4 linked regions of the Homo sapiens genome follow. The protein of the gene in region 2 interacts with the protein of the main gene of each other region in a pairwise test. Each region holds a gene or a part of one and is shown on either strand. Other genes may lie near its edges. The genes, in order: SYS1, SLC30A8, FAM210B and DERL1.

What was found.
Region 1: the proteins of SLC30A8 (region 2) and SYS1 interact in binary tests that used the Homo sapiens proteins (3 or more experiments, as listed by UniProt).
Region 3: the proteins of SLC30A8 (region 2) and FAM210B interact in binary tests that used the Homo sapiens proteins (3 or more experiments, as listed by UniProt).
Region 4: the proteins of SLC30A8 (region 2) and DERL1 interact in binary tests that used the Homo sapiens proteins (3 or more experiments, as listed by UniProt).

What each region holds. Positions count from the first base shown.
Region 1 is NC_000020.11:45,357,710-45,366,413, reverse strand, and holds the start of SYS1 (protein SYS1 homolog), read right to left. Parts: upstream 3,259-8,704; 5' UTR 3,099-3,258; exon of another isoform or gene 3,046-3,098; intron 2,886-3,045; 5' UTR 2,883-2,885; coding exon 2,721-2,882; intron 796-2,720; coding exon 728-795; intron 1-727. UniProt on the Homo sapiens protein: Involved in protein trafficking. May serve as a receptor for ARFRP1.
Region 2 is NC_000008.11:117,165,754-117,173,482, reverse strand, and holds part of SLC30A8 (proton-coupled zinc antiporter SLC30A8), read right to left. Parts: intron 2,450-7,729; coding exon 2,315-2,449; intron 948-2,314; coding exon 802-947; 3' UTR 1-801. UniProt on the Homo sapiens protein: Proton-coupled zinc ion antiporter mediating the entry of zinc into the lumen of pancreatic beta cell secretory granules, thereby regulating insulin secretion.
Region 3 is NC_000020.11:56,354,811-56,362,491, reverse strand, and holds the start of FAM210B (protein FAM210B, mitochondrial), read right to left. Parts: upstream 3,519-7,681; 5' UTR 3,487-3,518; coding exon 3,301-3,486; intron 1-3,300. UniProt on the Homo sapiens protein: Plays a role in erythroid differentiation. Involved in cell proliferation and tumor cell growth suppression. Involved in the metabolic reprogramming of cancer cells in a PDK4-dependent manner.
Region 4 is NC_000008.11:123,031,728-123,039,456, forward strand, and holds part of DERL1 (derlin-1), read right to left. Parts: intron 1-7,729. UniProt on the Homo sapiens protein: Functional component of endoplasmic reticulum-associated degradation (ERAD) for misfolded lumenal proteins. Forms homotetramers which encircle a large channel traversing the endoplasmic reticulum (ER) membrane.

The sequences.
Region 1 (8,704 bases), on a different chromosome or scaffold from region 2:
CAAATAGAACCTATCTGGAAGACAAATTTAGGTCAAAGTCAGCCCACCAGTTTTCAACCTCCGGTGTAAGGACAAGAATAATAATAACATGCAAGGCACTGTTCTAAGTCCTTCTTGTGAATTAACTTATTTAATCCTTACAACTATGAGGTAGGTAATATTACTAGCCCCATTTTACTGATGAGGCAACTGTGGTAGATTAACTTGTCCAAAGTCACTAGACTAGTAGTAAAGCTGAGGTTCAATGCCAAATGAGTCTGCCTCCAGAGCCTGACACCTTGACCACTATGCTAAACTGCCTCTTAAGAGACAGGCAATGATTACGTGTGACCTTAGACATCACTGAGTCCAAACCCTCATGGACAAAAGAGGAGCCTGAGGCCCATGGCAAGTAACTTGGCCAATGGCACACAAACCAAGAACAGAACCCAGTTCTCCTGCCTCTCGGTCGAATCCTTTCTCAGCTCACTCCACATCAGGGAAGTTATCTGAGATGGAAGTTGTCTTGCAGGCAGCACAAACATAGTGACATAAGAGCTTTCCAGGTAAGTCAAAACAGCAATGGAAGGAGGCCCATTATACAGCTGGTCCCAGAACTGGCCTCTGTCACCCACTTTACTCCACCACTCCCCAGAAACAAGTGCCAGCCTGTCTCATGTTCAAACTTAGGAAGTTAGTCCCAGCACTAAGAGCCCAAAAGCTGGATAGCAAAACTGGTGATACTCACCAGGTGAGGGCGTTGAGGATGAAGGACATCATGGAGAGCCGGCCTGGAGGGGTGGAAAAGCCCAGGATCTGAGGGGGAATCACAAATGGAAATATACTGGAGAAGTGACTTGGCAGAGCCCCAGGATCTCAGCAAGCCTCCTAAGGAACAAGCATTCTTCCCAGAGCACAGAAGATAATACCTCCCTACATCTGTACGGCAGCCTATTTCCAATAGGTGCTTTCATAGACATCCATTATGGGATTTCATTTGTTTCTCACAGCAGGTGGAAAGGGATTATTCTCATTTTACAAAGGAGGACGTAAAAACTCAGACAAGTTAAGTTGCCCAAAGTAATAAACAACAAGAGTAAAGTCTAGAACAGCGTTCAGCTGACTATGGCTCCATAGGCCTGGCATCTGCTCCTGTACATAAGGTTTTATTGAAACACAGCCACACCTATTCACTTATATATTTGTCTATAGCAGCCTTCTGTGCTACAATGGCAGAGCTGAATAATTGTGACCTAAAATCCTTACTACTTCACCCTTAAAGGAAAGGTTTGCTGATCCCTAGGCTAGAACTCAGGTTGTGTGCATCATATGGCTCTTCAACAAAGCCTGGCATTCCCACAGCTCTTCCCAGGAGCATAGAGTCTCCTACGAGACTACAACTAGGCATATGGTGGGTGTGCAACCTCCACTATCCAACACAATACTATCAAATGCCAAACATCTGCACCACACTTTCAGCTGACAAAGAAAGGTCTTTGACATACATAATCTCATATTATCCCTAAAAAAACCTCACAAAGCCATTCTTCTTCTTTTAATTCTTATCACTTTTTGGATAATAACTTGCCCAAGGGCTAACACAGAGAACAAGCAGCAGGAGCAAGGACTCCATCCCAGGTCTCCTGGCTTTAAGAACTGTGCTCGGCCGGGCGCGGTGGCTCACGCCTGTAATCCCAGCACTTTGGGAGGCCGAGGCAGGCGGATCACGAGGTCAGGAGATCGAGACCATCCCGGCTAAAACGGTGAAACCCCGTCTCTACTAAAAATACAAAAAATTAGCCGGGCGTAGTGGCGGGCGCCTGTAGTCCCAGCTACTTGGGAGGCTGAGGCAGGAGAATGGCGTGAACCCGGGAGGCGGAGCTTGCAGTGAGCCGAGATCCTGCCACTGCACTCCAGCCTGGGCGACAGAGGGAGACTCCGTCTCAAAAAAAAAAAAAAAAAAAAAAAAGAACTGTGCTCATCACCACGCCACAGCTGCCTCTTAGATGTAACAACTTATAGGCCTCCTTTACACTTTACAAAGTACCTTCTTATTCCTAAACCCCTCTGGGCCTTGTAACATTTTGTTGAGGGCAACATGGTAGGAGCATCCGGCCCACTTTTCAGAAAAGGCTCAGAAAGGGGAAGCAACTTGCCCAAGGTCCCACAGCTAGTTTTATATGTTTAGGCCTAGACTGAACCCTTGCTTTTCTGAACCCAAAGCACATGCTCTTTATATTGCAGTCCACGACCTCTCTGCAACTAGTCTCATGGTTTTGAAGACAGGAAAACAAGTTCACAGAGGTGACATTTGCCCCAGGTCACACAGCTAGTAAGTGGATCTTAAACGGACGCCTGTCTGACCCCAAAGTCCAGGCAGTTTCCACTGTACCCGCACGAATGCTCTTTTATCCACCCCTCTCTCCGATGTGGCACCTGAGAACCTAGCTCAGAGAAATCAAGTCACTTTCCCAGAGTATCAGAAAGGAAATGTATCAGAGTTGCCTGGAACACAGACGTGTTTATTGTATTAACATCCAGGCCCTTTTCTTTGTACTAATCAGCCTCTGCTGTCATTCCATTTTATGGATGAGGCAGCTGAGGCTCAGAAAGGTGAAATCCCTTTCCCAGGGCTACAAAGAAAGAAGGTGACCCAGCCACGTCTACAGCACAGTAGTGATGGACCACAAAGCCTACTCGGGGAGGCCGAGACCCCACCCGCCCCAGTCCGGGGACCCTACCTCGGCGTCGAACATCTGGTCCAGCGAGGGGCTGCTTCGCACTAGCCCGTCCACCAGCGCCAGCCACAGGCCCAGCGAGCCGTAATACACGGTCTGCATGAGGACGATCTGCGACAGGATCAGCAGCGGGTCCCACACGTAGCTGCGGAACTGACCCGCCATGCCCTGCAGGGACACGAGCCGGGCCTCAGCCAGCGGCCTGTCTCCATGGCAACGTCGCCCCGCCCGGGAGGAGGGACTGGAACCAAGGGGTGAGCCCATTCCAAGAGTCAGGGGGAAGGCGGGGCAGACAGACCCATTCTCAGAGTGAGGGGAAATCCAGCCCATTCCGCCTGCGCGGCCCCCGCCCGTACACGAGCTCCTCTGGGGTCTACTCACCAGTGACAGACTCGACGATCGAAGTGTCTGAGCGTGGCCCGGCCTCACCGGCGGGCTCCCAAAACAGCGCTGACAGACAGGACCATGGAGGAGAGGCGCTGCCGGCCTAGAGAGGCAAAGCTCCAGCGACCACGGCGGCAGGAGCGGCTGCGTAGGAAAGAAACGTTTCCGGGGAAAGCAGCGGAGGGGCGGGGCTGAGGTTGCGCAGGCGTAGTGGGTGCAACCTCTGCCTGAACCTCCTGAACCAGGTACAAGCAGCCGGATAGCGAACTGAGCACATGCGCAGAAGGAAGAGTGAAGGCAAACGGAAGAGAGGAACGAAGGCCGCAGAGCTTGCGCGCCCTCTAGAGGGGAATTCTTTTTTTAAAGGAAGGCGGCTAGGGGAGAGGCAAGTGGGGTGGCTTAGGACGCGGTAATGATGTTTGGGAATTAACGAGGTGATAAACTGTGTCGTTATTTTCAGCCTAAATTCTCAATGTTTTCTCCTAGTTAGAGTCTGATAACTTGAAGTGGACCTGCAAGCTCCTCCACGTAGGAGTTTGCCAATGTTCCCGCTGTACAGATAGTTAAGCTAAGGGCCAGAGAAGGAAAGCAACATACTGTTTCAACGACACAGTTAGTAGCAAAGTAAGTATTAAAATTCAAGTGTTGGTCGGGCGCGGTGGCTCACGCCTGTAATCCCAGCACTTTGGGAGGCTGAGGTGGGCGGATTACCTGAGGTCGGTGTTTCGAGACCAGCCTGACCAACATGGAGAAACCCCGTCTCTGCTAAAAATACAAAATTAGCGGGGCGTGGTGGCGCACGCCTGTAGTCCTAGCTACTCGGGAGGCTGAGCCAGGAGAATTGCTTGAACCCGGGAGGCAGAGGTTGCAGTGAGCCGAGATCACGCCATTGCACTCCAGCCTGGGCAACAAGAGCAAAACTCCGTCTCTAAATAAATAAATAAATAAATAAATAAATAAATAAAATTCAAGTGTTTCCTCAACACTACAACATTGATTTCGCACCTACTCGGTGGCAGGAAGGCTAGAACATGTATATATAAGACAGCCCCTGCCCTGAGACACAGATGAACTATATTAGAAGGCAGAGTAGTGGGTGTTTTAAAATGTGGGTGTCCAGTGGAAAAAGGCACAGGTTCTGAAGTCGCACATAGGAGTAAATCCTGACCCTCTCTGCTGCCATGACTGTTTTATCTATCTTCCAAATCCGAATAGTGGACAGTCAGTAAATATTTGCTGAATGAGTTAAGAACAGAAAAAGCAAGAGCAAATCGATAACTCACTTATTCCTACTCCAGCAGACGAAAACCCATCAACTTCATTGATCCTAGGTTCCCCCTCTCTGAAGTGGAAAGACGGGAAGTAAGTTGTTCCAGGAAAAGAATTTGGGTTTTAGGGCCAGCTATGCCACCCAGTGTGACCAGCAAGCCACTTCCTTCTTTAAACCTCAGCTTCCCTGTTTATGAAATGAGGAGTTGGACATGATTAACGTTTTCCACCATTTAATCTACCTTCCAGTAATTATTTTCTCATTAAAAAAAAAACTTAGGCTGGGCACAGTGGCTCATGCCTGTAATCCCAGCACTTTGGGAGGCTGAGGCGGGCAGATCACAAGGTCAGGAGTTCAAGACCATCCTGGCTAACATGGTGAAACCCCATCTCTATTAAAAATACAGAAAATTAGCCGGGCCTGGTGGCAGGCGCATGTAGTCCCAGCTACTCGGGAGGCTGAGACAGGAGAATGGCGTGAACCTGGGAGGCGAAGCTTGCAGTGAGCCGAGATTGCGCCACTGCAGTCCAGCCTGGGCGACAGAGCGAGACTCCGTCTCAAAAAAAAAAAAAAAAAAACGTATCAAAGAGCCATGTAACTGCCAATCAGAATTTCTGAACAGCTTGTGGTAGCCGTGTTATCACCTTGAGCTGATACAATTCCAGACAAAAGTAAAGAAACTTGAGACTTTATTGAGAGTGTGCGATTGTCCTTATCATTTGGAAATACCCTGAACAGTTCCCCTGGACTCCAGTTGGGGAGTTATTAAGGCCCAAAGATTTCTTAGGTGCTTTCCAGCTCAACCATTCTTTTAGGCACCTCAATTCAGTCCAACAAATATGTATTCAAATTCCTCTAGTTCACTGATTATGCACATGATCTAGTGTTTCTGAGAAAACATCTGTTTCTTAAGTGCCTACATGATCTTGTTTAATTCTCACAATCTGAAAATATAGCTATTGTCCCCTTTTTATAGGGGAGGAAACTAGGCTTGGGGGGAGGTGGTGTGACTCTCTAGGTCAGAGAGCTCACAGGGAGCAGAGCTGAGATTCAAATTCAGGACAACTGACTCCAAACATCAAGATGACTTTTAGTTTAGTTTTGGTTTGGTTTAGTTTGGTTCTTTGAAACAGGGTCTCAATCTGTCACCCATGCTGGTTTGCAGTGGCGCAATCATGGCTCACTGCACCCTCAAACTCCCAGGCCCAAGCCTCGGCCTCCCGAATAGCTGAGACCACAGGCATGTGCCACCACACCTGGCTTTTTTTGAAACGGAGTCTTGCTCTGTCGCTCAGGCTGGGGTGCAGTGGCATGATCTTGGCTCACTGCAACCTCCGCCTCCCGGGTTCGAGCGATTCTCATGCCTCAGCCTCCTGAGTAGCTGGGATTACAGGTGTGTGCCACCATGCCCAGCTAATTTTTGTATTTTTAGTAGAGATGGGATTTCACCATTGTGGCCAGGCTGGTCTGGACTCCTGACCTCAAGTGATCTGCCCGCCTCAGCCTCCCAAAGTGCTGGGATTATAGGCATGAGTCACCATGCCTGGCCCGCACTTGGCTTTTTTGATTTTTCATTTAATTTTATTTTTTTGTAGAGACAGGGTATCCCTATGTTGTCCAGGCTGGTCCTGAACCCTGGGCTCAAGCAATCCTCCCACCTTGGCCTCCCAAAGTGTTAGGATTACAGGCATAAGCCGCTGTGTCCAGCCAAGATGCCATTTTAGAATAAAAGAACAGGAAAGAAGGGAGGAAGGGAGGGAGGGAGAGGGAAATAAAGGAAGGGAGATAGTAAAATAGGTGGTGGAGTAGCAGGAAGTGGAAAAGGGGCAGTGAATCTCTCTGCTCAGTTAGCCCTGGGGTGAGGGATTAGGGAGAAATGGGAGGAAAGGCTTAGAAAAGGGCTGCAGAGGTTGACAATACCCAGGGCAGCTGTCTTCCTTGCAGATGCTGGAATGCGTGGCTCTTCCTGGGCTCTGCTCCCTTCACGTCACAGCTGGGCCCACTCCACCCCATCTCCTCCCAATAGGAAAGGCCCTGCCTACCCATTCTGCTGAACTAGAAAACACAGGTAGCTTTTGATATTAGGGCTGGCTGGAATGTCTGATGTCATCCCTGGAGTCCGGAGCTCACCTCTGGGAAAACCCCACTGGGCGTGCAAGCTAACCTCCTGCCCTTTCCTTTCCCCTTTGGGAGTTCAGTTCTTGGATTCCCGCCTTGCCAAGCTTCGGAAATGTACATCATCCTCCGTCTTAATTTGGATCCAAGAAGGAAACCAAGAGCTGGGGAAAATCATGGCAACCCCTTTGTTTAGCTTCATTGGCCCATTTTCAAATTTGACCACAAGCAGTCTGCTTCAGACCACAGAGTCTGAACTAGAGCCCCACTGGCTTGCTATGTGACCTTGGGCGAGTCCCCTGGTGGGTCCCAGTATCCCAAACTATCAAATGAAAGAGGGACATTGGACTCCGACTTGCAGATGCTGTCATGGCCCTGTGCCATCTGAATCACCTGAGGAACATACTGGATATTCAAATTTCCAGTCCTTGTTTGCAAACCTAAGTCCAGTTCAAGTCTCCCAAAGCAGAGTGTGGAAATCTGTGTATTTAGAGAGCTCCCCAAGTGATTCAGAGGTGCACCCACATTTGATAACTACAGCACAAGATGATCTGTAGTTGACCCTAAACCGGCTCCTTCATCCAACAGAAAACTGCTCTGTGACCTTGGCGAGTCACATTCCGGCTTCAGGGTTTTCTTCCATCTGTAATATGAGGGGATTGGATTTGAATAGCTAGCTGGTCTACGAGGGTTCTTCCTACGCTGCCAAGTCTGTGGTTCCAAACTTATGAATGAAATGTTAAACTTCAGGTCAGAGGCAGAGTGACGAAAAGCCACAAGCTGGGACAAACTGTCCTTTGGGTGGAGGGGAGGGGAGTGCCTCTGGTCACTTGGTCTCTTTCGTCACTTTCACACTGGGGCCCCACTGCATGCATGTAAGGACAATCGCTAAGGTCACCTTCTGGATCCACCCCCATAAATCCCTTGGGAAATGTTCTCCCATAGGCCCATAGGCTTGAGAGCCCTGCTTAGATTCGAATCCTGGCTCTCTGGCTGTCTTGCTGTCCTGCTGGGTGACCTTGGGAAAGTTACTTCATGTCTCTGAGTCTCAGTTGGTTTCCTCTTCTATAAAGTGGAGTTCAGAATAGTACCCATGTTATGGGCTGTCCTGAGGGTCAAATGTGTGCTTAGTCCACTGCCTGATATGCAGTGGGCACTATGTTAACCTCAGCAATGTTAATATGATTGTTATTATTTCTTCCTCTGGAATGTGGGAACGGAAATGCCTGATCTCAGATTTATGGCAAGGATCTAACAATGTATCAGACAAGTCAAGCCCGGTGGCTGGCCCATAGTAAGAGCACATTAAATGTGATACCTTCTCTTCCTCCTCTCACCCCTACTGTCGTGTTCTCTAGATCCCTCCCTCTCTCCCTTCCTCCCCCTCTCCCTTCCTCCCCCGCTAGGCTGCCCTACTGCCCTGCTCACATGTTTCCTTTCAGGGAATATTTGATGAAGACACTTCAGTAGAAACACGTGTCTCAGGGACACGTTATGCAACTCTGTGCTCACAGGTTTTTGGAAACCCCACGTGGGAGGCTTGGAGTTGGCTGCCTGTCCTCTACATCGGTGACCATCCTGGGCTCTGGCCAGTGAGTTCCTCTCTTAGAAGGAAAACTGGAGAGAGAGCTCATTAGCTGCCTGGTTTCTCCTCCAGACCGAAAACCCCTTTGTTACCCAGGTTGCTTTAAGTGCTGTTTGTGTCTGTGTTTGGGGAGGAATATTTGCTGAGCATCTACTGTATGACAGGCACTTATATAATTTAATCCTTATTTAATTTCTAAAACAAGCCTGTGAGTTGAGAACTATTAATAGCCCCACTGAACACATGCAGATCCTGAGGCTCAGAGAAGGGACATTTACCCAGAGCCATGCTGCCAGTGAGTGGTAGAGCTGAACTCCAACCCAGGCCAGTTTGACTCCACACACTATTCCTTCTCAGTGTGTAACAAAAAGCGCACTGAAGGCCAGGCAAGGTGGTTCATGCCTGTAATTCCAACACTTTGGGAGGCTGAGGTGGGTGGATCCACCTGCAATCAGGAGTTGGCGGCCAGCCTGGCCAACATGGAGAAACCCTGTCTGTACAAAAAATACAAAAATTAGCCAGGAGTGGTGGTGCATGCCTGTAATCCCAGCTACTTGGGAGGCTGAGGCAGGAGAATTGCTTGAACCTGCGAGGCAGAGGTTGCAGTGAGCTGAGATTGTACCACTGCACTCC
Region 2 (7,729 bases):
ATCTAAATTATCTGTGGCAACAACTTGGTGGGGTCAACTCGAATGTTTTTGTCGGCTGTTCTTGAAGACTTCTGGGTCTCTACAACCACATTCTTTGGCTGGTGCCAGTGTTTAAGCACTCTGGTAGGTGAAAATATTTCCTTTTGAACAGTGATTATATAAAGTTTTGAAATAAACAAGTTAGAATTTAGAAATAAGAGGGATTTATTGCCAAAATGTGACAAGTAAATAAAAATTAGTTGTAAGCACTTCTCTGTATATTCATACATATTTCCAATTCAGAGTAGAAAAAAAAATCACATTACAGCTTGGTGAGAGAACCAAGTTCTAATGTGGCGTTAGCATACAGAGTCACTTTTATTCCTGACTTGGCTCTCCTTATTTTTTGTTTCTAATGTTTTGGTAAAATTTTGTGACTATTTGTCCCTTCCACTGATTTCTAGTAAGACTTTCCTGAGTTCAAATTTACCTATGTGTTCTCAAGATGCATTATTGGAAGGGAGATGAATTTGGTATTGCCGATAGTTACAAACAGCTGTTACTTCGGCTCCACTCAGGAATAATCTATATACACATTCCTGCAATTGAACACAGCTACTGATCAGTATATAATCCAATTGATTGATGGATCTCAGTGCCTCTTCCTTCATGGTGAATGGAACTAAATAAATAGATAAAATGTGCATTGCACCATGACATGAATTTCTTCCTTTGGTTCCTTATTTTCTATGATGCAGAAACTGCATAGCAGCATGTTTGAAGGTGGCCTGTCAAATTTGGGAAACTGACGGTGTGACTGAGCTAGTCACAGGGGTCTTCACAGAAAAGGCAGTCGGGGTCCTGGTCAACTGGAGATTCCATCTGAATGGTGAGTGAGTGCATCGTAAAGCTTTTGCTAAGGGCTTTAGCAATTTCTCTCCGAACCACTTGGCTGTCCCGGCTGGCTGCTGTTGATAAAGAAGCACAGGGAGATTAGCACTGATTGCACACGCATGGGCGACTGCTCTGACTCCAACTTCAAGTACTTTGTCTTTGACCTGCTGGGGTGGGGCAGAGGCAGGGCACTCAGAGGAAGCCACGTTTGCTCTGATAATCAGCTACATTCACACAGACAAGGCAGGGGAAACTCTAGTGCAGCAAAGTGCCCTGTCGCTATGGGAACTCTTTCTGTCCACTGTTATCTCTGGAGTCTGGCATTCCTAGGAGCTTACTATGGAAGGGGAGACAAGCCCTGGAAAAAGCCAAGACAGAACTATTATTTCTTATACAGCCCTGCTCACCAGCTCCCAGGGATCTCTGGGTTGCAGGCTTTGTATGTAATCAGAATTTATATCAAGGATAGTGACAGGAACCAGGAAGCGTTTAGAGCTCCCCACAGACCTTTCTTAGAGCAGCAACCCTCACTGCCATTTTTTTCCTGTCCCAAATGCTATCAGCAGGCTGTAAAGTCTCCTCCATAGCAACCTGAGTGTTTACTAGATTCTTCCATTTGCAGTGAAATATTGGCATAGTGAATGCTGTAAATTCCCTCAAGTCAGACCTAAGCCCCTTCGAGAAGATGACGATGTCTGAGAAAGCACAGTTTTCAAATGACTGTCACTAGTGTTCCTGTCCCCTGCCCCTAAGTAACTCCTTGAGTCATTTTTTAGCAGCCTAATGTGTTATCCTTGGCCTGAGCTTTCTCTTGAGGCAGTAAATGCCCTCCCACTGCCTATCCTCCCAGCTCTAGGACATATCAGAGACAAAATTAACTTCTTGAAAAAGTAATTTTAGTATAAACCTAGTATTATAAGAATTTTCTCACATGGCTACAGAATTTCTAATCATACAGTGTGGGACCCCACCATAATTCCTATTAGCACATCCATTAGCTTGTTAGAAATTTAAGAGTGGGGCTGGTGTCTCTTTCATCTTCCTATTTTCAGTGCCAGGAAAAACATCTTATACATAGGAGATACTCAATTAAGATTAAGTTTTTAATTCATTCCTATTATTTGACTGATAGGGCACCAAGCCAAACAGATGAAGTTGAATATTCAGAGTCCAAGGCCTTGAAGTGGCGGGTGCATTTTAGTCCTTTGTTCTGTCTGTCCTCAGCCCTCTGCAGTCAGCCCCAAGAATGTCGTGGGTATCATTGTTGCTATGACAACATCAATAAGTGGGCTGGTTTCAAAGGCCCTTGGTAATAGAAAACACTTTATAATGTTTTGACAAGCAACAGACAATAAGGGCAGCTCTACAAAAAGAAGGGAAATTACTGACTTTACAGGACAAGGACTGAATTTTTTCCAGGGTGTTTACAAAACTCACTGACCTGTAGCAACATGAGCTGAGAGAATTACTTGATTCATTGTTAGAGACCAGATGTGCAGGCTGTGCACAGACAGCACCCCGTCGACTGCTAAAATAAGCTCTTTCACACCACTGTAATTCAGGCTCTTTGGCACACCTGACAAAAGGGAAGAGATGGAGGCTGTAGTTATTCAACTAGATACAGCTCATTGAATTACCTAAACAAGCTGCAAAGTCCTCACCAAAATTTCAATGTGTTCATCCCTTTGCTGGTTTCTTACTTCAAATGTTTACAAATAAGATTTACCTGACTACTTCAAGGTTTACCATCAATCAAAATTTCCCACTCAGAATACTTGCAGAATTTACTATGCAATAACCAACAATGGTAATTATCCTTAGTTTTTATGGTATACTATTAAACTAACTGTGCCTTTTCCAACTATCTTTATATACACTCTGGAAAGTAAAATGAAATAACATGAAATTTGGTATCAAATAATCATGGGTTAGCATCCTGACGACAACTATTGTGAATTTACCCAAATCCCAGAACTTCTCTGACCCTCAGCACATTTGTAGTAAAATAAGGGTGTTAAGAACAACACATAGATCACAGAGATCTTTGAGGAGCAATTCAGAAAATATCTAATCATTATGAACAGCAATGTTGTACAAAGATTAGTTACTCAACAGGTCATTTAGTGAACTGTGCTAATAGAGGATCCTAACATTGTATAATACCATCTTATTCGGTTTGTAAGTTTTCTATTATTTTAGCTACATTGGAGGATGCTGTAGAAGAGATGTCTAAGTACAGCCCTTTTTTAGCCTCTACTTCAGTTATGTACAAACAACACAAACACCTGGGGTGTTTATTAAAAATAAATGTACCACGACTCCATTCCAGACCTAAAAGGAAATTTCTATGGATGAAGCTCCAAAATCTAGAGTCTTTCAGAGTGGTTTTCAACCTTGGATGCACATTAGTATTACCAGAGGAGATTTTAGAAATCCTGATGACTAAGTTACACCCAAGACCAATTAAATCAGAATCTCTGTGGATAAGGCCCAACATCAATGCTCATTTGGTGATTCTATCAGGCAGCCAAGATTGAGAACCACTGCACCAACATTCATGAGCCACTGAGCAGCTCTGCTTTGCAGTGGTTCTCTAGTCTGACTACATGTTTTTAAAAATACCAAAGCCAGCCCCAACCCCAGACAATTAAATCAGAATCTCTGGGTGATATAGTTTGCATATTTATCCTTGCCAGTGTCTCATGTTGAATTGTAATCCCTAATGCTGGAAATGGGGCCTGGTGGGAGGTGTTTGGGTCATGGTGCCAGATCCCTCATGGCTTGGTGCTGTCTTTGCGATGATGAGTGAGTTCTTGCAAGATTTGGTCATTTAAAAGTGTGTAGCACCTCCCTTGCCCTTGCTCCATTCCCATCATGTGACGTGCCTTCTCCCCCTTTGCCTTTTGCCGCTATTGGAAGCTTCTTGAGGCCTCCCCAGAAGCAAATGCCACCATGCTTCCTGTACAGCCTGCAGAACCATGAGCCAATTAACCTTATTTTCTTTATAAATTATCCAGTCTCAGGTATTTCTTTATAGCAATGTGAGAACAGCCTAATAACACTGGGTATGGGAGGCCTGAGCATAAGCATTGTTTAAAAGCTTCCCAGAGGATTATAATGAACAGCTAGAACTGAGAAACATCTACTTAAAGAAATGGGGAACCCTTAACCCTCCTTTTGAAAAATTTAACCCATTTATGCCTGGGGTTGCAATTTTTTGAATTTTTGCAATCAGACCTTGGCAATGACCTTGAGCAGGATATAAATAACTCTCACATGCTTAGCATTCCAATAATGGAACACTCGGCAAAAAATGGGCTAAGAACCTTGCTCATGGGGGATTTCCTCCTTGGAGTTAACTCAAAATTCCCTACAGCATGAGCTGAGTTTTTGATCCTACCTCATATTGTTTGGGGAAGTAACAAAGAGCTGGTTATCATGCTATTTTACTCTATGAGTGGCAAAAGACCTAGGCTCCTAGAAGCAGATGAAAGGAGTTCTTGTCTCAAATTAGCCATACAATGTGAATAAAGTCATGGGTAAAATTGTCATAATAATAATAACAAACTTTTATTGAGGGCCCACTATGTGTAAAGTTTGTGCAAAGTACTTTATATATAGCAATTATCTCATTTAATAGTCCTAAAAACTTTAGAAGCTAGTTATTAAGGTTACAATTCTTATTTAACTAGAGAAGAGGAAATTGAGGTCAGTTAGATTAAGGAACATTGCTAAGGCCACACAGAGAAGTGGCAGAACCAGGGATATCAGATCCCAATGTCTGTGCTCTGAGTATAAAGTGTTACGCAAATACTAGAGTCTAGGAATTGCAATCAAAACACTGTCTGTTATGCCTAATGTGTGTCATCTCTTTGGGGAAGTTCTGTTGACCATTTGAAGACTTGCTATCATTCATCTAGGCCCTTTGAAATTAAGTCATGATCCCACTACCCTTTTTTCACTTGTCTCCTTCATCTCATTACTATTATAGAGAACATAGGTCCACCATGACTTATTTTATTATAACAAATAGTGTTGCCAGGCAAGAGGCATGGCCCCACTGGACTCAATGCTCCATCACATCCTAGAACTTTCTTTTACTTGGGGGGGAGTCTGAAAAAATATTAATGCATCCAGGAAAATATCTAAATTAGTGTTTAATAAATAACTTCCCAGACTTATAAATGTATTTGAAAAACCACTGATCATTCATAATTAAATAATTGCATTTGAAATCAATAAGATATAATATTTCACCTATTAGAGTAGAAAAGAATGAACAGTTAGTTTGATAATACTCAGTGGTTGTGATGATGTGAGGAAAGGGGCACTTTCATATGCTGTTGAGGGGAAAGAAATTGATACTGTATCTTTGGTAGAAATGGTAATATCTATCAAATTTTGAAATGCATGTGATATAGTTTGGCTGTGTCCCCACCCAAATCTCACCCAAATCTCACTTTTAATTGTAATGATCCCCACGTGTCAAGGGTGGGGGCCAGGTGAAGATAATTGAATCATGGGGGCAGTTCCCCCATACCGTTCTCCTGGTAGTGAATAAGTCTCACAGATCTGATGGTTTTACAAATGGGAGTTCTCCTGAAAAAGCTCTCTTGCCTGCTGCTATGTAAGGAGTGACTTTGCTCCTCCTTTGCCTTCTGCCATGATTGTGAGGCCTCCTCAGCCATGTGAAACGGTGAGTCCATTAAACCTCTTGTTCTTTATAATTACCCAGTCTCAGGTATGTCTTTATGAGCAGTGAAAAAACATACTAATAAAGCATGTAAGTTTTGAAACAGCAATATCACTTCTAGGAATTATTCCACAGATATACAAGTGCTAAAAATATATATGTACAAGGGTGGTAATTACATCATTGTTTATAGTAATTACATCATTGTTTATAATGTCAATCACAAGCAAGTACTTCCATGCTGTGGAGTAATTACAGCTGTGAAGAAGAATGGGGTATATCTATGTATGTGCTAATATAAAAGATCTCCAAATGAAAAATGCCAGGTGCAGAGAAAAAATGTGAATCAATATGTAATCCCATTTTTATAAAAAAAGGTACACACTTACATCACATACACATATACATATACATGTATGTATGTATATATATATATGCAAATGCACAAATATCTTTGGAAAGATAAATGTCAACTTATTAACAGGTATTATCCCTGAAGAATAGGACTGAGAAGTCAAAGACGGAATTATAAGGAGACTTTTTAAAATTATTTCATACTTTTCTGTATTATTTTTAAATTTTACTAAGTACTATACTAACATAGTTTGAAAACCTAATTTAAAAATTAAGTGTCTTCCAGAAAGGAGTTATCTGCCAGTTTCTATAACTAGCTGACGTAGTCCAGTCTCTGCACTTTTCCTGAAGTAAAATAAGAAAGATAATCACCAGGGAAGAGCTATAGCGAGACACACAAAGAAAAGCGGAATATAAGTCATTTCAAATTGTACACCAACTTGTCTTTTATCTTTCTTTAAGTCAATAACTTCCATAATAGCAACAACAGCTGCAGCTCAGCATTCGGCACTCAGGAAAGAAAATGGATGCTTCTGTGGCTTGACAAACCAAATATTCTCATGTTTAGAGACAGAAAATTCACTATTACTCTGTGACATTTGACTCCGTTATCCATTTCACTGTTGTCAACACTATTATCTTTCAACAATTATAGTGACCACCAAGAACAAACCTTTAAATGTATACTTAGCAGTGAACACTAACGAAGTGTGAGCTGTCACTGAAGGCAACTGCACTCTGAGACCAGATCTACCTTATGTCAAAATGTGCTGGACAAAAAAAAAAAAAAAAAAAATCAGCTAATGTCTGGATATTTCAATCATCTGGATGTTTGATATGATGCAAACTTCTAGCTCTCACTGAATTTTACAGGTGCCATTCCCAGGGCCAGCATGTGGGAATCCCTTCAGTGGTACTAAAAGATTAGTCCAGTGGTTCCTGAAGTGTTGTCCTGGGACCAGCAGCACCAGCATCTTGTTAGAAATTCAAATTCTTGCTCCTCCTACTCCCCAATAAGATATACTGACTCAAGAATTGTGGGAGTGGGCTCAGATATCTGTGTTTCAATAAACCCTCCACGTGATTCTGATGCCACTAAAGTTTGAGAACTGCTGGGTTAGTCTAATAAGGGTTTTAGGCAAGTCCTTCATAATACCTGTTTTCCTGGAATGTAAGATAGAAAATAATATCATTTGTTAACGACAAATGGCCAATGTAGCAATGATAAATCACCTTGTAAATATAATCAAGTACCTCAGGTCTCCAATAAACCTTATTTTTAAATTTTAAACAGTTTTAAATTGACATGATAATTGTACATATGTATGGGACATGCAGTGCTGTTGCCATACAGATAATTCATAGTGATCAGATGAGGGTAACTGACAAATTCATCATCTCATACATTTATTATTTCGTTGTATTGGGAATGTTCAATATCTTCCTTCTAGCTATTTGGAACTATATATTATTGTTAACTATATTCTTGTCATTCTGTAGTGCTATAGAACACTAGAGCTTATTCCTGCTATCTCATTGTAATTTTGCATCCTTTAACAACTCTCTCCCTATCCTACTCTTCCCCTTCCCTCCCTCTGCTATCTGTTCTACTTTTCACTTCTATGAGAACAATTTGTTTTTAGCTCCCACATATGAGCCAAAACATGTGGTGTTTAACTTTCATTTCCTGGCTGATTTTACTTAGCATAATGTCCTCCAGTTCCATCCATGTTTCTGCAAATAACAGGATTTCATTCTTTTTCATAGCTGAATAGTATTCCATTGTGTATATACACTGCATTTTCTTGA
Region 3 (7,681 bases), on a different chromosome or scaffold from region 2:
CAATGGAAAATTTTTAGACATTCATTTCTTCGTGAAACATTGCCGTAAGTACCCGGGATGTGTTAGGCACTGTCCTGAATGCACAGGACGGCGTGACACATCTTCTGTCTGTACTCAGCATGCATGCACATGTGTGTGAGAGTGTGTGTGAGACAGTGTGTGTGTGAGATGCCCCTTCTGCCTCTCCCCAACATTTTTTAAAGTACAAAAACCTGTAATAGAGAGGGGGTAGGAAGGTTTAAAGAATGAGCCAAGGACCTTGCCAAGCCGATCGCAGTGTTTGGAGTGACACCTGTTTTCTTCCACTTGAGAAATCATATTAATAATAAACACTATATTGTGTATATTCTGTACTAGGCACTGTTCTGAGTACTTTGAAAATATTGGCTGGGCACGGTGACTCATGCTTGTAATCCTAACACTTTGGGAAGCTGAGGTGTAGGAGGATTGCTTGAGGCCAGAAGTTCAAGACCAAGCTGGCCAACATATCTTTTATTTTATTATTTTATATTTTTGAGACAGATTCGTGCTCTGTCGTCCAGGCTGGAGTGGAGTGATACGACCTTGGCTCACTGCAACCTCCGCCTCCCGGGTTCAAGCGATTCTCCTGCCTCAGCCTCCCGAGAAGCTGGGACTACAGGCACGTGCCACTATGCCCGGCTAATATTTGTATTTTTAGTAGAGACGGGGCTTCATTATGTTAGCCAGGCTGGTCTCGAGCTTCTGACGTCAGGTGATCCACCCACCTTGGCCTCCCAAAGTGCTGGGATTACAGGCGTGAGCCACCGCGCCCGGCCTCATCTCTAATTTTAAAAAAAGGAAATATTAATGCATATAATCCTCACAACAACCTTGACTACTGTCAACCCCACTTAACAGAAGAGGATCTGAGAAGCCCAGAGAGGTTGAGTAATTTACCAAGGATCACACAGGGATTACTGTCAGAGCTGGGATCCAAACTCGCTGAGTCTGGGTCCAGGGCCTTTGCTCTGAACAACCATGCTATGTTACTCCTCGTGTATTCATGAGTGTCTCCTCTGTGCCAGGCACTGTTCTCAGTGTAGGGGACAGAGCAATGGAAAAAACTGACAAAACCCCACCCTCGATGAGCTTATGGTCTTATGGGAAGGCAGGGACAATAAACAGAAGAGTAAAATACCAGGGCTGCTACCTGTGACAAGTGCCATAGAGAAACACCAATGGGGCGGGAGACAGGGAGTAGGAGGAATGTTAAATAAGGCCATCAGGGAAGGTCTCCCTGAAAAGGTGCCACTGGAACCAGAACTGACGGAGACAAAAGGACACTGGGGCTCTGGGAGAGCAAGTCATCTGCCTGAACTCCCCCTACGTCCCTGGAAGGAATAAGTGGCACAGGCAGGCGGGGCTGCTAGGCGGTTTACAGGACATGGAATCATGTTAAGACAAAAAGGCAGGTCTCTTCTGTGGCTTTCCCTACCCCTCTTACAGAGACCCCCTGCCAAGGCAGCGTGGGTGGGCCTCTTTGGCTCTTAATTAAACACCTGGCAAATTTGGAGAGCCCAGCTGGGCAGCACACTCCTACCTCCCGACGAGGGTGGGCGGCCAGAACAGACGACAGGGGAGGTTCTGGGCTCTGGCCAAGCCCAGACCCTCCCTGCACTGCTCCCAGGCCCTGCTGGGGACGCGTTTTCTCAGGCAGATGAGTTATCTTTTGTCCTAATCTCCTTTGAGGTTCTGATCCCACTTGGGTTTCTGCCGATTTTACCACGGTGCAGAAGAAACAAGGACAGCTCACGGGGCCCTGGGGCCTTGTGACTGTATATATTTACTGCAATTATAGTCATTTCTAACCTTAATTTAGGACACACCAGATGCCAGGTATGAACATATCTCATTTTACATTCATATTCTATGAAGTCTGAATTATTAACGTCCCATTTTACAGATGAGGGGCCTGAGATAGAGAGAAGGGAATTTGATCAAAGTCAACAACAAGTGAGTAGAGAGAGGAATCCAGGGAGTCTGAGGCCAACTCTTTGCCACTGTATACACACACACCGCTCCAGTGCCAGGGCCTGAGCTGGGGACAAGGTCAATGTGGCTGACAGGCAGGACAAGAGGCCATTCCAGATGAGTGCAGAGAAGACCCACAGCCATGGGGTGGAAGCAGGCCCAGTGGAGGCATCCGAGACCTCACAGGTCGTTAGAGAGGGCTTCCCGGAGGAAGGAACAGCTGGGCTGGGCCCTGAAGAATCATCAGGAGGCGGCACGGTGTGTGCAGAAGGTGCCACTCTGGAGAGGATCCCCAAGACCTGTGTGCCACCTGTCGGACTGGAGAAGGCAAGGAAGGAAGTTGATCTGGGCAGGAGGCATGATGAAAGCCTGGGTCCAATCCCCATCCGCTCCTTACTGAAAAGCTAGGAAACGGTCAGGAGATGTTCGCTGGGCCGGCGGCACTCCGCTGAGGCCTGCACCAGCTCATGGAGTTGTCTCCCAAACTCTTGCTGGGAAGGTGCTATTTTTGGCCCTCTAAAGGTCAGAAAACAAGCTCAAAAGCCTTCAGGACTCGGTCTGAGGTCACCGGGCGATGAATGGAGGGGCCCTGTCTGCACCCAGGCAAACAAAGAGGCTCCAGACTGCCAGGCCGGATGCGCTCCGGGCTGGACGCCGGCTCCGCGTGTCTGGGCTTGCCATTCCTGGACCGCCAGACTTCATTTACTACTATTTTTATTTAAAAAGACTCACTTGGAAGAAAGTGATAGATTTCTTGAAAGGAAAGCTGGTATGACTGCTCTGAAGGAAAACCAGTTTTCACTTAGCACCAATGGAAAGTGACGGAAATGAAACATAACAAACAGCACTGTGGGTTTCTTGCCCGCGGCTTCCCTGAGGACGCCTGCTCTTCCACTCAGAAGAAAAGGGAGGAGCAGCGAGCGTCGGGAGGTGTTCAAAACACAGCGAGACCCAGCCAGAAGGCCTGGACAACAACTCCGCAGGCAACGTGTGGAAGTTCAGACCAAGTCAGTCGGCTGCGCCCCAGCCTGGCTGAGGCTCTGCAGACCCGGGGCTCGGCCGAAGACTGCGCGACCTTGGGCAGAGCGCCACACCTTCCCGAGCCTCAGTTTCTCTGGCTGTCAACTAGGAGGATCGCTTCCTTGGCTTGCAGGGATTTGGGGTTTCGGGGACCCTGGAAGAGCTCGGTCCCGGGCAGCTACAAGTGCAAAGGCGTCCTTGGCGGAGGCGGCCGGACCCCGGCGCGGCCCTGCGGACGTCTGGGGACCTGGACACCGCCCGGGATCAGGGTCGGGGTGGGGTGCTTACCTGGTGGCCGCGGCAGTCCCCGCGCGCCGTGCGGAGCAGCCGGGCGTCTAGCCTGGGCGGGAGCAGGGCCAGGGCCAGGGGCGGCGGGGCGCAGGGGGCGGTGGCGCCCAGGAGCCAGGTGGCGCGAGGCCGGACCCGGGCGCCCACCCTGCCTGCCGGACCCAGCAACGCCAGCAACCCGGCCATGGTGCGCAGCTAGGCGCAGCACCCGCGCCGCTGACCCGGGAGGCGGGCGGAGGCCGGGGAGGGTGGGCGGAGCTGACCCGGCGAGGGCCCTCCCCGGCCCCGCCCGCCGGCTTCGCCGCCGCGCGCGCGCGCTGGGCGGGACTGAGGAGGCCTGTGCACATCCCCTTGGCTCACCCGCTAGCTCCGCTCCTCGGGAGCCGGAGTCCAGGGCTGGTGGGCGGGGCTGAAGGAGCGCGCCCCGCCTCCTCTCCGCCCACCAGCCCCGCCCCTTTGGGGGTGGGTGCAGGTCTTTTCAGGGTCTTGGGCTTTCTAACTGTGGTGTGTAGTTGGCGGGTTTCCTTATTCTGCGGGCACAAAGGTGGGCGTAGGGCCGTGGCTTATGAGCTTTTCTCCCTGCAGAAATGGGTGAAATCTGAAAAAAAATTATAGATATGTTTACGTGTTAGCTCCAAAGAAGAAAATAAATATGAGAATTGATATTAGTACATGTTTAATAAAAAGTCCTCTGACCCTCATAGATTGTTGGCGTGAATGTAAAGCGAAAGATGGTGTGGCAGTTTCTTGAAAAGTTAGACATACACTAACCATACAACCCAGCAACTCCACTCCTCGGTAGCTTCTCAAGAGAAACAAAGGCTCGACACTCAAAGACTAAAATGTGAAGACACCAATGTTTGTAGAGATCTTATAAATATTAGTCAACAATTAGGAATGCCCATAAACTGGGACGTACTGTGGCACAAGTCTTCAATGGGACGCAATGCAACAATTAAAGGGAACAGACTACTGATACATGCACAACATAAATGAATCTCAAAGCTCTTATGCCAATTGAAAAAATCTAGGCACAAAAGTCACACACTGGAGGATTCCAGCTACATGAAGTGCCCAGAATAGGCAAAATCACAGAGACCTAAAACAGATCCGTGGTGGCCTAGGGCTGGGAGTGGGAAATGAGATTGACTGCCAAGGAGTGGGAGGAACGTCTTGGGGTGAGGGAAGGATCCTAAACCCAGATTGTAGGGATGGTGACAGCTGTGTAACTAAAACTCGTGGGACTGTACACTTAACATGGATGAATTTTATGCTGTGTAAATTATACTTCAATAAAGATGTTCTGGCTGGGTGGAATGGCTCATGCCTATAATCCAAGCACGTTGGGAGGCTGAGGTGGGAGGATTACTTGAGCTCAGGAGTTCAAGACCAGCCTGAGCAACATAGCGAAACCCTGTCACTACAAAAATAAAAATAAATTAGCCTGGTGTGGTGGCATGCACCTGTAGTCCCAACTACTCGGGAGGCTGACGCAGAATTGCTTGAGCTCAGGAGGTCCAGGTTTCAGGGAGCCACGATGGTGCTACTGCACTCCAGCCTGGGTGACAGAGCGAGACCCTGTCTCTCTAGAAAAAGAAAAAGAAATATATTTTACAAAAGATGTAATATTCTATTAGTCAACTGCAATTCAACTCAACCAAGCTCTTACACAGGCACAGAAATGATATTAAACACATATGCATTAAAAAATATTTATTACATAAGATGGAGTTATAGCTGTGAAAGTAACAGGGTCTGTTGGAGGGAGGTCCTAAAGTGCCCCTGGATGGGAATCCTTCCATTTAAGTGTCTGCAAGAAGCTGGGGAAGAGTGCTTAAGGGTGCAGATTGTCTGTCAGGTTGGCCCTAGAAGTCCAGCTGTGTGATTTGGAAGTAGTGACTCAACTTCTCTGAGCCTTGGTCTTTTCATGTGTAAAATGAAGATAATAATAGTTTCCCCCATGAGATTGTTGAGATAATTCTTTGACACAGTTCTTGGAAAGGGCTTCACTCAGTGCCTGGTGCACAGAGAGGGCACACACGTTAGCTGGGATGTTGTAGAGATGCCTTGCCTGAAGCCCCTCTGTCACCCGGTGACAGTGCCACCTCCAGATGGCATCTGATCTCGACTTCCTCATGGTTCCCATGATTTTCTTTCTTTTTTTTTTTTTTTTGGAGATGGAGTCTCGCTTTGTCGCCCAGGCTGGAGTGCAGTGGCGCGGTCTCAGCTCACTGCAACCTCAGCCTCCCGGGTTCATGCCATTCTCCTGCCTCAGCCTCCCAAGTAGCTGGGACTACAGGCGCCCGCCACCACGCCTGGCTAATTTTTTGTATTTTTAGTAGAGACGGGGTTTCACTATGTTAGCCAGGATGGTCTCGATCTCCTGACCTCGTGATCCTCCTGCCTCGGCCTCCCAAAGCGCCCGTGATTTTCTTGTCACCAGGCCTTCTTCATTCATTTAAGTTTCCTGCCCAGGCTTCATGGGCAGTTGAGTTTGTGATTCATGCTATATGCTTATTAGAGAAGAGAAAAAGGTAATTTTGTTTTTCCCTTTAAATTTGACAGTAAATATAATACTGTAATTATAGACTTTAGGTTCTTTTTTTCTTCTTCTAAAAGTGAAGAAACTTTTGCTTTTAACAAAATGTATTGGAGCTGCTGCCTGCCTGAACTTGTGACAGTTTTGTTTTTTTCTTATTGTGTCAGCTCTCTTTGTCTCTCTAGAGCAGCAGCTCATGCATGAACTATATTTATTTTAATTTCTTCATTTTCATGAATAGATAATGTGTTCTCACGGTTCAGATTTTTAAAGGTACAAAAAGTCTACACAATGACAAGCTTCCTTCCTATCCCAGTGACCAGTTCTCCTCATTTTTTTCTCCCTAGAGACAAACACTGTTACCCGTTGCTTGTGCATATCCTTCTAGAAAATTTTACATGTGTGCAGGCAAATTCCTATGAACGGTTTTCATTGCTGTTTTTACCCAAGTGGGGCATAGTATACACAGTGTTCTTCACCTGGACTTTTTTTGCTTCCATTATATTTTAGAGTTTTCTGAATATGTACACAAAAATCTTCCTTATTCTTAAAATCTGCTTAGCATTCCAGTGTATTCCAGGGTGCTGTAATGCTTTAACCAATCCCTTGTGGGTGGACCATTAGGGTATTTAGGGTATTTTCCAGTCCTTGTGATCATAAACCATGCTGTGATGAACCAGCGGGTATTTCTGTCACTTGCCGTGTTTAAGTATGCCTGTGTAATAAATTCCTCAAAGTGAAATTGCTTAGTGAGAAGATATGTGTATTTGTAAATTTGAATAAATGGCAAAATTTCACTCCATAAAGGTTGCAGAGTACAGCAAATGAGAGTTTTTTGTTTGTTTGTTTGTTTTGAGATGGAATCTTGCTCTGTCACCCAGGCTGGAGTGCAGTGGTGTGATCTCAGCTCACTGCAGCCTCTGTCTCCCAAGCTCAAGTGATCCTCCTGCCTCAGCCTCCTGAGTAGCTGGGACCTCAGGAGTGCACCACCACGCCTGGCTAATTTTTGTATTTTTAGTAGAGACGGGGTTTCACCATGTTGGCCAGGCTGGTCTCAAACTCCTGGCCTCAGGTGATCCGCCCGCCTCGGCCTCCCAAAGTGCTGGACTTACAGGCATGAGCCACTGCGCCTGGCCAAGAGTGTCTATTTACCCCGACTCTAAATGGTGTCTTTAGCAGAGAAATGTAGGACTGACTTTTATGATCTTAACTTGAGAATCTGACATTAAAGGCAGCCATATAAGGCCAGGCGCGGTGGCTCACGCCTGTAATCTCAGCACTTTGGAAGGCCAAGGCAGGCTGATCACCTGAGGTCAGAAGTTCGAGGCCCGCCTGGCCAACATGGTGAATCTCAGTCTCTACTAAAAATACAAAAAATTAGCCGGGTGTGGTGGTACATGCCTGTAATCCCAGCTACTCAGGAGGTTGAGGCAGGAGGTTGAGGAGGAGGTTGAGGCCCCTTGAACCCAAGAGGCGGAGGTTGTGGTGAGCCGAGATCGTGCCACTGCACTCCAGCCTGGGCAACAAGAGTGAAACTCCATCTTAAGAAAAAAAAAAAAGGTCTTCATCCTTGTCATCTTTGCATTGAGCTGGCTGAGGAGGAAAAGGAAGAGGAAAGGTTGTTCTTGCTGTCTCAGGGGTGACAGCGCCTATAGTGACAGCTACTCCGGAGGCTGAAGTGGAAGGATTGCTTGAGCCCAGGAGGCAGAGATTGCAGTGAACTATGATCACACCCCTGCACTCCAGCCTGGGCGACAGTGAGACCCAGTCTCAAAATAAAATAAAATAGTAAAATAAAAAATAATAATTAAAAAAGCAGGCAAGAAGTGCCTTTCAAGGTAT
Region 4 (7,729 bases), 5.9 Mb from region 2:
CTTGGTTCATTCCCTACAAAATATTTTAATTGGCTTCATAGTATTCCTTGTATGTGAATGTCTAAACTTTTGTTTAAACTGTTACAATGCCACAATGAATATTCTTGTATATCCTCTTTATATGTGCATATACAGAATAAGTTCCTGTCAATAAATCTGCTAGAGCAACAGACATAACCATTTATTTTGGTAGATACTGCCAAATGCCTACAAAAATGTTTGCTCAATTTATACTTCCTCCTAAAAAGTAGATGAATCCTGTCTTCTCTCCATACTCTCACCATTTCATGTATTATATATTCACCAATCTGAAAACTAATTTTTATTTGCATTATGAGAAGTCAAGCACCTTTTCACGTTTTAAAAACCTGAGCATTTCCTTTATTCATTTGTTTTTCTGGATTTACATTTTTTTTTTCCCCCCCGAGATAGGATCTTGCTCTGATGCCCAGGCTGGAGTGCAGTGGCATGATCCTAGCTCACTACAACCTCCACCTCCTGGACTCAGGTGATTCTCCCACCTCAGCCTCCCAAGTAGCTGGGACTACCAGCATGCACCACCACACCTGGCTAATTTTTATATTTTTTGTAGATACAGGGTCTCCTGATGTTGCCCAGGCTGGTCTCAAATTCCTGAGCTCAAGCAATCCACCTGTCCTGGCCTCCCAAAGTGCTGGGATTACAGGCATGAGCCATCGCACCTGGCTGCATTTCCTCATACATTATGAAATTTCTCTTTCTCATCATTGCAAGCATTTTCTGATGTCATTAGACTTTCATGGTGTTTTTGCCATATTTTGACATACAAAAGTTTAATTAAATGTAGGCATATGTATCCATGATGTGTCATGTTTAGAAAGTCTTTTCGCTCCAAGAATGTAAGTGTTCATGGTTTTATTTTAGCACTTTCAAGGTGCATCCAAGGAATGAGGAAGAGATCCAACTGTTTTTCTAAATAGTCACCCAGTTTTCCCAACCCCATTTACAGAGTAACCCACATTTTTTCCAATTATTTGAAAAACTACTTTCATTGAACGTTTATACTCTAGTCTCTTTTACATGTAGGTCTATTTTAACACCATTCTGTTTGGAATTGGTTCCTATGCCAATATCAAGTTATTTTAATTTCTATTTTCTTTTTTTTTTTTTTTTTTGAGACAAGGTCTCAGTCTGTTGCTCAGGCTGGAGCGCAGTGTTTTGACCACAGCTCACTGTAACCTCAAATTTCTGGGTTCAAGCAATTCTCCACTCAGCCTCCCAAGTGGCTAGGACTACAGGCATGTACCATCACACCTGGTAATTTTGTTTGTTTGTTTTTTGAGACGGGCTCTTCCTATGTTGTCCAGACTGCTCTCAAACTACCAGCCTCAAATGATGCTCCCACCTCAGCCTCCCAAAGTGCTGAAATTATAGGCATGAGCCACTGGGCCTAGCCTAGTTTCTATTCCTTTTATAACATATTTTAATAGCTGGTAAAGTTAAACAGCTAAATAATATCTCCCCCTTTTTTTCTTCAACAATTGTCACAATTTTCTTGGTTAGTCTCAATATTTTATTTTTCTAAATGAATTAGAACCATTCTTTTATTATATCCATGTGATATTGATATAATTCCCAGCCAAGAAGTTTTTCATAGCTTTTAGAGTTGTCTATAGAGCTATCTCTTTCTACCTTTTTATACTTAACCACAAAAGCTGAGTATCTTACTGCCTACAATATTGAAAATTGAGCTTCGGCCGGGAGTAGTGGCTCATGCCTGTAATCCCAGCACTTTGGGAGGCCGAGGTGGGCAGATCACCTGAGGTCGGGAGTTCGAGACCAGGCTGACCAAGGTGGAGAAACCTTGTCTCTACTAAAAACACAAAATTAGCCGGGCGTGGTGGCACATGCCTGTAATCCCAGCTACTCGGGAGGCTGAGGCAGGAGAATCGCTTGAATCCAGGAGGCAGAGGTTGCAGTGAGCCGAGATCACAACACTGCACTCCAGCCTGGGCAACAAGAGCGAAACTATGTCTTAACAAAAAAGAAAATTGAGCTTCTTGGGCTTTCCAAGCATACAACCCTAGCTGTAAATAAACTTTTGTATCTTATTTCATTCTTGTCTAATTCACTGGCTGGCACCCCCACCAGAACAATGCTAAATAGTGATTGAAGCAGATGGCCTTCCTAAACTTTTGGAAATGGCAGCAAAATGCTGGCTTTTGGTGTGAGAGATATGTGTCTATCTCATTGCACACTAGCATGTACCAAGCACAAAAGACATGGCCCCTGAATTCCTCAGAGTAGTGGGGAAGGCTGTCAAAGGAAGAAAGGGTTGGCACAAGGGAGGGGACATGTGGACTTGTTACAAAGGCCCCAAGAATTGCAAGAGCACAATAACTGAATGGGTACTGCTAACAATTCAAGTGTGGCTGGAATGGAGGACGTCAGTCACGGGGACTGGCCACATACAGACTGGCCAGTTCCATTCTCCAAGTACAGGAATGTAACCCTCAGAGCTTAATTCCTTGTAGAGGGAAATGCAATGTGCATACCAAAAAAGTGACTTTCCAAGAAACGTGTATTAAACCAGAAAAATAAAATAGTTTAACATTTGGTTTGATTCATTCACAACTTTATCACAGAAACAGGATAGTTTAGTGGAAAGGGAACTGGAGATGACTTGAGAAGACCTGGGTTTAAGTTTTTGCTTATAAGTCACCACTTCCGAGCCTCAATTTCCATAGTTAATTTTTTTAAAGAAATCAATAAATTAATGTGCTACTCAGCTTATTTACACGCACTGATTCAGGAGACGGATTTCATAGATGAGGAAACAGGATGAGAAAAGGTTAAGTATCAGCCAGTAAGTGGTGAAGCTAGAATTTTATCCCAGACAGTCTGACTCCAGAGTTTGTGATACTAAGCCCCTATTTTTACAATCCCTCTCACAAATGGCGTCAGTATTATGAGGTACAATTACAATTAGTGTAAGTGTTCACTACTACAGACACTTGTGTAATCCTGAAATAGACTCAGAGTAAACCTACTAATTAATTCTCTGTGCTTAAGAAAAGGACTGGGAGTAAAGACCAGAAGCAAACCCTCTAGGTAGCCCTGGACCCTTGGAAAAGTATGGACGTCAAATTGGCTTCATCATCTACCCAATGACATTATCCTATGACTTCTGCCTTCCTTATCTTACAGGATTTGTAAAAGGTTGGAATTAAGAAAGTGAATTAAAAAGATACTATGCAAAAAGAATTAATATGTGTGGGTGTGTTAATTGTATTATCACAATCTTTTCGGAAACACCCGCTAACCAGTTTTTATAAATTCATATTTCAACTACCCCCATATTCCTATAAGTTACTCAAGGCCTGGTTTTGGAAAAGAAACCTTGTTTTTGTCTGACTACATTTTCTCTAATGCTGATGACATAAGACTATTTTTAGTCACTGTTTGCACCTGTTCTTTGGAAATCAGTGTCTGTCAAAATATCTCACTTCTTTTCCCTGTTCATTAAGCCTACCCTTGAGTTATACTTGCTTTCATTGATCTAAAAGACTTAATATTATTTTTGTGTTACTTTAAAATTATAATCTGAAAACACCAGAAGACAGCTTATCTCTTTAGAAGGACACAGTGTAACATATTTCGGAAATCCCCATTGTAAGTATCCAACTAAATCCCATTTTTTCCTCGACCTGATATGTAAACAGTAAGGAGAAGGAACTGGCTTTACGTTCAGTGCCAGGAGTGAAGAGGCCCATTTTCAACCCTGGAAAGCCTAAGAGGCAGCCAACTGCAGCACAAAGAGCCACGACTTGCAGACAGAGGACTGCCTGCCTCACACTTACTGAGAGGACTCGTGGGGGAGTATCTCATTTTAAGTCCACAGCAACCTCAAGGCCAGGCCCATAATGATCCCAGTTTTTTCAGGAGGAAAGCTGGGCCCTAATTAGAGTTCCTCACTTAACAAGGACATGTAGCCCATGTGCTCACTGCTATATACACCCTTAAAGAAGACATAAGACATTGTTCCTCAGTTATTAGTCCAACAACTTCAGAGTGTAGGTTGCAGCCATCCTTTAGCTAAAATCTTCTAAACAATCTGCTACTGAAATAATTTGCCATCCAGAATCTAGTGTTTTTTTTTTTAAAGTATGAAAAGTGAGGATTTGTCTGAAATAATAAGGATCACTTGATTCGGACTTAAGTATATATCAGTCACCAAGCAAGAAAGATGATGAGCACCTGTGTGACAAATGCTAGTTTAGTAAACTGTGGCCTTTTTTGCTGGGTGGGGAGACACAACGGGTAGGCAAGAAAAGGCCCCTTCCATTCATTTAAACAAATGAAAGGCACTTAATCTTTAAAAAGAGCAATTAGAAGCCATCAAATCTACTCCTAGATATATAGGCAACAGAAATTACTATTTCTCCTCACCAAGAAGTACATATGTTCACCAAGACATGTATTAGAATGTTCATAGCAGCACCATTCATAATAGCCAAACTGGAAACTGCCCAAAAGGTCCATTAATAGCTGAATGAGTAAATAAATTGTGGTATGGTCCCATAATGAGCAACCTATAACCACATGCAACAATATGGGTGACTCTCATAATGTTGATAAAAGCAGGTAGACACAAAAGAGAACATACTTCATAATTCCACCTATAAAAAGCATAAAAACTGGCAACAACAATACATGGTATTAAAAATCAAGAGCATAGTCACCCTTAGAGAGGACAGTGACCAGAAGGAAGCAGGAGAAAGCTTTTAGAGATTCTGTTTCTTGATCTGAATGCTGGCTGTATACATGTTTTGAATTTTTAAAAACTCAAGCTATAAACTTATTATACATACACTTTCCTGCTTGTATATTGTAACTCAATAAAAAGTTTTTTAAAAAGCCACAATCTAATGGGCAACATTATTACAGAACACAGCAGAACTGTTCAACATGGACAGGACTACTAAGGAAAGATCTTAAATTACGTACCAGAACACTTGCCACTAGAGTTCTATAGCCAAACCTTGATGGATATAGAACTTCTATGCTCAGCCTATAGTCCAAGTTCATTCTCCTCCCTGCTATGTTGAAACGTCTCTCTTCCCCAATACACCCTTAAATCAGTCTCCTAAGGTTGCTGTCATCAGGTTAAATGTGATATATAAGCAAAAGCTTGGCAAATATAAGCACAAGGCTGAGTCACAGAATTGGTTGGTACCATTTCTTATTCCTGGAAATAAATTAGAGAAATCAAGAGTTCACATCTTCCCATTTCAAGTCAGGATGCTTTTAAGAAGACAAAGCAGAATAATCATCCAGCAGTTACATTTCAATTGCAATTACTAATTAAAATTAGAATCTTACTGTCCAGGAGAGAAGGAAATAAGGCATAAAGTATTGGCTGATAAATAAAAATTGGCAACTATTTTTTTTCCCATACCAACCACGTAGGAGGCAACTATTTTTGAATAGCTTATTTATCAGGCTACTTATTGGGTATTACAAACATTTTTCTATGTGTTCTACATACTAGAGGCAAGAAGTAGATAACATATTTCCTCAATTTGAAGGTACTCGTTCCTGTGTTTCTGAAATTAGAGTGTCTTACAATCAATACACTCGTTGAATGTAATTTCTACTCCCCTGTCCCCCAAAAAAGTTGCATTAAATTGATGGTGCATCGTATAATCAATGGAGTCTTAGAACAAAGTTAATATGCTATGATATTATCCTCAGATCCTAAAGAAATTGAGGCTCAGACAGGATAAATAACTTGCCTAAGGGTACACAACTAGCAGGGGACTGAGCCAGGCCTTGAGACCATGATTCAACTACTTGAAATCTAACAGCCTTTCTACTCGAATAGAAAAGGAAAAACAATTTGCTATGATTGATTTGGAAGAAATCACCTTCAAAAATGTTTTGCTACATACTTATTTTTTTCGTAGATATTATGCAAAGGAGTTAAACAAAACAGCTTAGAACTATCCTTGACTCAACGAAATAGAAACTGAAACTGAAGCTGTCTACAAAATGGGGGTAACACTTATCTCAGGATGACTGTCAGAGTTCAGTGACATGACCTCAGGGAAGTTGTAACAGGGTGATGTTATTTTGTCCAAAGAAATGAAGAAATATAGCCATGCAGGCGGCCCTGGGAGACATAACCTTAGAAAACACAAAGGCAGCAGGAATTGCCACCTCTTGTGTAGTTAATCAACGATTAATATGAAGACATTTCATTATTGTGAACTATTTGATTGATGAACATAAATCTGAGGGACTCAGAATAGGGAGAAATCGTAGACAACAGTATAATGAGTCTTAACACACACCTGTTTCAACCTATCCAAACTAAAGAAATAACATTATAAACCTCAGCGTTCTAAACCAACAAGCTACACACAAGAATCTAGAGCTGAGGAGGAAAAATAACTTGTCACTTCCAACATGAGCACACAATTCTAAATCAATCACTCCCCCATTTTTGTAAGTTGTGAAAGATTCAGCTTCTAAGGAAAAAAGGAACTTTCTAGCAGAACTCTGCTAAAGCACACCGCACACTGTCCGTGCACAGCAGCCTCTCAAATGCAGTTTTTCCTTGACTGCTTCATTTGCAAATGAGTTCCTCCAGGTGGGTCTGAAAGTTACATGTGTCCAAAATAGGCAAGAATCAGAGTAACAGGAAGAAAAGACAAGGTACAGCTGTTGGTCTTTTCACACCTGGGCAGTACACTGTCCTGCCTCCTGCTGGCAGCTGAGAAGAAATAATACAGGGAAGATGACAAAATTGTGGAAGATGTGACAAGAACGATTACTCTTTTTAATCAGTTCACCACTTTTAACCTTATACACCCGCAGCCTGTTAGGCTTATTTACATTGCTTCTTTACAATGTGCTTATTTACATCGTGTAGTCACTAGTGTCACTACACAAGTGAGGATTTTGCTAACAGGGACAACAAGCCGGTTTTGACCAGGTCCTTCTCACACATTAATATGCCACCATTGCTCCCCATGACCACACATTACCCAACAAGCCACCAGGGACAAAGTACACAACATTCTCTCAGCCAACAAATATTTAGTAAAGTAATAAACACAGAACAGTATGCAATTCCAGCTGCACTCCAGAGTCATGTTTTTATATCCAACTGCTCCCTTGGCCTCGCCACATGGATGCCTGAAAAGCATCTCAAGACTTAGCACAGCCAAAACCTAACTCTTCATCCATACCAGCCCCCACTCCCAACCCAGGTATCCCTGACCATTCCCCATCTCAGTCAAGGGCTCCGCCATCCACTCAGCTGCTCCTGTGAAAACAGTAGTATCTTTCAGTCCTGCTCGCTTCACCCATTCACTCTTTATATCCATTCGGCTGTAATCTCGTCCCCTCTGCCAAGTCTATGCCCTTTTCTCTATCTTCACAGCCACACTGATCCAAACCACCATCTCTCTGGCCTCCTAACTGGATTCATCTCTCTGATCTCATCACCTAGCCCTTCCTCCTTCAACCCCCTCCATACACACACAAAGTCCACTCCACAGAATAGTCGGGGCAATCTGTCAGTCCTTTGTTCACAAGGCTCCAAAGACTTCATAGTGCCCTCAAAATAAAGTTCAAACCTCTTAACATGACCTACAAGGCTCAACTATGATCTAGCTTTAACCCACCTTTCCATCTTAGCTTTACTACACCCAGCCCTGGCTATCTCCCTGCTGTCATCTACTAA